2 separate regions of the Homo sapiens genome follow, and region 1 is linked to region 2. The links come from fine-mapping of genetic effects on plasma protein levels. A gene starts in region 2. The other region holds a variant in brackets. All regions are shown on one strand. Distances are between the middles of the regions. Region 1 overlaps POF1B (POF1B actin binding protein). Region 2 holds the start of POF1B (POF1B actin binding protein).

Evidence for each region. PIP is the posterior inclusion probability: the model's chance that the variant is causal. Protein levels are from antibody-based Olink assays in UK Biobank. Linkage for the fine-mapping came from a reference panel and not from the study's own genotypes, which makes the PIPs less certain.
Region 1: its variant is fine-mapped to the plasma level of the POF1B protein (UK Biobank, PIP 0.96). The variant lies in the coding sequence of POF1B. If it changes the protein, the assay may bind it differently, which can mimic a change of level.

What each region holds. Positions count from the first base shown.
Region 1 is chrX:85,306,561-85,309,487 of GRCh38, forward strand. It overlaps POF1B (POF1B actin binding protein), which reads right to left. Exons shown (of 17, transcript NM_024921.4): 10 at 1,564-1,656; 11 at 603-716. Among named protein-coding and RNA genes, the nearest start is that of ZNF711, 64 kb to the left of the region's middle. The variant T/A (reference allele first, on the strand shown) is at 1,569.
Region 2 is chrX:85,378,054-85,380,980 of GRCh38, forward strand. It overlaps POF1B (POF1B actin binding protein), which reads right to left and starts at 1,612. Exons shown (of 17, transcript NM_024921.4): 1 at 1,586-1,612; 2 at 1,120-1,442. The coding sequence starts at 1,401.

The sequences.
Region 1 (2,927 bases), 71 kb before region 2:
TATAATGTCTCAATTTAACAATCAGACTCTTGCTACTCTGTGACAATACTGTACCCTGCTTTCTAGTAGGCACAGAAACGACCATATGCCTGATTATTTACATGACAACTAGTAACTGAGCAAGAATTTGGGACAGCCATAGGAGTAAAGATCAGGAAGAGGGTAATCCTTAGAGACTACTTACAATTTCCTAGGAATTCTCTCTGCTCAGACATCCAGAGAATTCATCTAGAGTTTTTTCAGTCATTTATTTATTGCACAAACATGTATTAAGGTCTACAACAGCTTTTCTCATTGACATGTTAGTACATTAAATAAATGCATGAACCTAGATTTTTAGTATTTCTACAATTCTGGTCACCCAACAAGACAAATAATTGTGTCCCATATGTACTTTATATCTAAAATAGATAAGATTATCTGTTTTTCTGAGAGGGCTTTCAGCCATTAGAAATACCCAAAGCCACTCAATTCTCATATGAACAAATTTTTCCATCATATTTAATTCTGTCTTGATTATATCTCATAACTCCAATGTGCCAGTAATTGTGCATATGAAAAGCTATCAATGTAGATTAACACCAATAAAAGCATCAGTTTACCTGCTGCTGGTGATTATTTGCTCTCACTGATGCCAAGAGTTCTTCGTACTCTTTTAATTGAGTGTCTTTGAATGATAAATCTTTCTCAAGTCTCATCTTGTCATTTTCCAGTGACTAGAAGCATAAATTATTTATTATGATTCAGAATTGCAAAAACTTAACAGTCACATAATACAAAGACTTGCTTACCTTGGAAGATTTAAATAAGCACTTGTTTCATTTGTACTTGCTTAATAAAGCAGAATTCTTAAAAGTTAAGAAAATACGGGATAGGAAATGATTGAAACTTCTAAAACCTTCATTGAAAGAGACATTTTGATGGACTAACTATACATGAAATGAAGCACAACCCTCTGAAATGTTTTAATGTTTTCCTCCAATCTACAAAGAGTCCTCGTTAATCCCAGCGAGTGGTAAATTTTTAAATTAGAGTCTAAATATGTTCATCATAACCCAGAAACAACAAAACTACTCCAAAGTCCTCAAGGCATTATTCAATGTGTGGAAAGCATTCTGAATGTATCTAGCTGATGGCACCAAGAACACCAATTAAAATAGAAAATGGAAAAAAATTAATTTTTTGGAGAAAAATGTTTTCAAGTTATTATATTTGAATGGAAATTCAGAGTATGCTTTATAATTATGAAAAAGGGGGAATTTACCTCCAATGAGTCAGATTATTTTAACTTTGCAGATGACTCTCTGGCTTTAAGCATTAAATTGCCTTAGTGGTAAACTAAATGATAAGTGCACATCCAACATTCTTTCATTTATACTTTGGATACCTCTTTTCTCCTCTCTCAATGCCAATTAACTGTTTGAAGAAAATAATTTAGCTTTGTCTGAATAAGCATAATATTGTGCTATATTAAATTTTAAAAACATATACTGGACATCTTTATTTCTGTATTAGGAAGCTAGTAACTAGAAAGGCTTTGGAAAAAATCAAAATAAATCTTACTGTCA[T/A]ATCATTTTGAAGATGTCCAAGCTCCTCCCGTATGTTGCTAAATGTGGACAGCACTAGTCGGAGTGACTTATCAGACATACCCCTCATCTGCAGGAAGAAAGGATTAATGGTTTAGTTTTATTAACATTTGAAAATAGGCAATATAAGTGAAAGTTTTTTTTTTCCTACTAGCAAACTTATTAATAATTTTACTTTGATATGGCAAATTAGAAAGGTGATATAAGGCATTTTGTCAATAGTGTGTTTAAGTAATCCAAATAATATTCCTGAAGATAGCATAGCTAGTATTTATAACAAATATTTATTATTTTTTCCATGATAAAGTATCATCTTTGTCACAAAGTAGAATTCTATCAGCAAAATTTAATTTTTACATTATTCTTTATTTAAAAGATTAGAAGAGATGAGACAGTCAATAATCAAATAATAAAATGAATCTCCCTAAGTGTATTGCCAACTGCCTGAATTTTGCCTGAGGTGAGAAGAATATAATTATAATTAAGTTTAACTTTAAAGTATAGAGCTATCTAAATATTTTTGGTTTTTTTTGTTTTGTTTTTGTTTTTTTACCAGAGTCTCACTCTGTCGCCTAGGCTGGAGTGTAGTGGCATGATCTCAGTTCACTGCAATCTCTGCCCCCTGGGTTCAAGCAATTCTTCCACCTCAGCCTCCCAAGTAGCTGGGACTACAGGTATGCACCAACACACCTGGTGAATTTTTGTATTTTGAGTAGAGAACGGATTTCACTGTGTTGGCCAGGCTGGTCTCGAACTCCTGACCTCAAGTGATCCACCAGCCTTGGCCTCCTAAAGTGCTGGGATTACAGGTGTGAGCCACTGCACCTGGCTTATCTCAAATTTTAAAGAGAGGGGAAACTCTTTTACTAGATTATTCTTATTTCTTTAAAGAAAAATGGTTTAAAAAACAGACAACTTCAGCTTCTGGGAAGATGGAGTAAAAATACTTTCCACAACCAATCAGACGTTGTTTAAGGTTTAACTTTGTAACTTCAGCCTCTGATTGGTCACTTTCTGCAACCAATCCGACTGATAACGGGCCACTACTTCATTTACATAGAGTGTACACCAAGTTACCAATGGGAAACCTCTAGAGGACATTTAAACCACATAAAATTATATAACTGTGCACTTGAGCCAATTGCTCAGCCCACTCCCACCCTGTGGAGTGTGCTTTCATTTTCAATAAATCTCTACTTTTGTTGCTTCACAAAAAAAAAAAAGAAAGAAAAAAGAAAAAAAATACTTTTCCCTAGCCTTCCTGTTAATTGCAGCTAAAAACCCTGGACATTATATATAAAACAAATATAAAAAGACCCAAATTGGTGAAAAGAGAAATGA
Region 2 (2,927 bases):
GGAGTGCACATTTGCATTATTTTTATCACTAATGCAAACTGGTATTTATGACCTTTATATTTTTCTTCTCCTTGACCTCAGTATAAGTGGAGTTTTTCTCAACCAGTTGAGAAATGTTACTTTATATTCTACTCAAATTTGTGGGTTTTGGAAAAATAATATGTATTACTCCTGATTGGTAATAATAATGTAACATAGCATCATATCCCAATGACTGCTTTTTGAGATTTTTGTATCTTAAAAACATAATTTCAGTTTGGACAGAATTTTCCAGAAAGCTTAAAACATGCAAATTTAATGTAAAAGGAGTCAGAGGATAAAATACACATAAAGCTGTTAATTTTATACAGTCTTGCAGGGTTACCTTGTATTTATTGGGAAGGTTATTAACACAGGTATTGGTGCTAAGAATAACTCTTAAGAAACAAACGTATTTCATTTTATGGGATGTCTTAGAGTTCCATCTTTTGTAGCTTTCATGTAACAATTGCTTACATCTTGCCTTCCTCAATCCTATATCAACTCTTCCAGTACTCTTTCTACAAGTATTCCATAAATTATTCACCTAGGCTGTACGATAAAAAGTGTGTCATTCTTGGAAGATGAAACACATATGACAATTCAGACATCTGCACCTCTCACTTATCCTGGAGCAGCTATACTATTTGCTGAGCACAAATAATTGCTTATCACTCAGACATGCCACAGTACCTGTATCACCATATTTGATACCAAAAAAAACCTGTTTGCTTCTGATATGAAATTAATCAGTAGGAACTTGTTCTAATAAAAATCTACTGTACTCAAGTTGAGAACTGCTTTGCAGTAGGGGCAAAGGGATTCCTTGGATCAGATCTTTCAGTCAGATCAAACAGAAAATGAGCCTTCCTATACTATGGTTAGATTATGAAAATCAGTGAAACCCGGAAACAAACAACCACAGACACTAGTAAGTGAAATAACAGCCAAGAGATGAATTTGGGTGACTATCCAAGGCATATATAACTGCAATCCACCAAAAGATATCCTGTGGAATAGAGGCAAAGAAGCAGAAAGGAAGAGAAATCAGGTTGAAGATTGCCTTTCTCCACTAGTCTGGCATAGCTTTCTTTGTTGTACCTGAGAATGGTCGCTCCAAACCAAATTTTGGTAGGAGGAGGTGGTTTTGAGAGGGGAGAGCACTTCCCGTGAGTTGAAGGGGTCCAAGGCCTGCACCACCTTGTTCATGGGCCCACTGTAGGTCCTCACTCGCTCATACACTACATTTTTTTCTGGAGGCTGCTGGGCTTGGCTTGACTGATGGTAGCAGTGGTAATGCTGGGGCTGGCACTGCAGCACCTCTGGGAGCTGCTGGGTTCCACAGCTGCTGCTGCTCGTCTCACTCCAATAGCTCGAGCTCATCTTCTTCCAGTGGTCAGCAAGGGACCTCCCAGATGTTCTACCTAAGGAACAAACAGAGAAATATAATGGAAAAAAAAGACAGGCAAGCAGGCAGTCAGGCAGGCAGACAGACACACGACACACGTGTGGAAACCGCTTATCAAAACCTCTGCCAATAGTGGTGCCGGGAAGAGAAGAAAGCTACCTGAGCAGCAGCAAGAGCAGGTCTGGCAGCTACAGAGGAAGCAGCAAAATATTTGAGCTCAAATGGAAAATGGAGCCACCCTGTGACATTGCTCCAGGAAATGGTACTGACACGCCCTTAGGGGCGGATTCACTTAGCAGGTTTACATGCCAGGAGAGGCCCTGCCTTGCCACGGAGATAGCTACAAGGCTGCCCAGCAGGTAAAGGAGTCTGTGAAGAGCAGAAATGTAGAATGTCAGGGATGAAGCCAGAGTTTCCAAGCACATGGGCTTAAAAATTCACAAAGACATGAAAATGCAAAAAACTTGCTAGAGAAAAAAAGTCACACATGTTATATGAAAGTGTCTTTTTATGGTTCTTAAGTTTAGCAAAGGTAGTTACCAGCATAAGTATTATTATTCCAGATTCCCAGACTAAAATAATGAGTATTAGTCTAGGAATACACCAATTTTCACAGATAAATTTGCATTCTTTGCAAAACCCATCTGATAATTGCAGTTAAGGAAGATTACTAAGGGGTCTCTTTCTAGTGACTCTGTCTAATATATGGACTTGTTTATCTTACTCAAAGCCTCGTATTCTTTTCTATCATTTGTTGAAGGAAATTTGTCTAAATGATTGAATTGCTGTATAGAAAGGTGGATGGTCAAGAAAAACCTAAAGATTCCACAAATGCTTTGCATTTTGGCATTCACATTTGTTGTTTTTCATTTATGCAAGGGAATTTCTCCTGCCCTTATATGTGCCCTAGGAAACACTGAGTTTGATTGACTTTTTAATATCTAGTTATTAAGGGAGCTGCAAGTCCTGAAAGATGCCTTAACTGACATAATGAGATTTAAATGTGTTTACAACTTACATTTATTACTACTTGAAATTTTGATCATAATGCCTACTTACCCTCAGATTTTGCTATGCAATATACTTCAGCACCACTTAAATCCAGAATACTCTCATTCAAAGTGACTTTAGTAAAAAGTATCTTCCTAATGTGTATATGTGCAATAGGACCTAGTATACTACCACCATTCTAGAGAGGAAGAGAATGTTATCCAGGGGGCTAGCAGCATTTTTTTTCTGCCCAGTGAACAAAGTGTTATGATTTACTATTCACTCTGTGTCAGGTACTGTTCAAGGGGTTTTATGTGGATTATAATTATTTCATCATTGAAGTGACTTTATGAGGTTTATAGGTGAGAAACTGAGGCACAGACATGGAGAGTTTGAAAAACTTTCCAAAGTTAAATAACCTGTAAATGGTGGGCCTGGCATTTTAACATATGGAGATTCATATTAGAGTCTAAGCTCTTATCTGGTATATTATACAGCTAGATAAATTCTC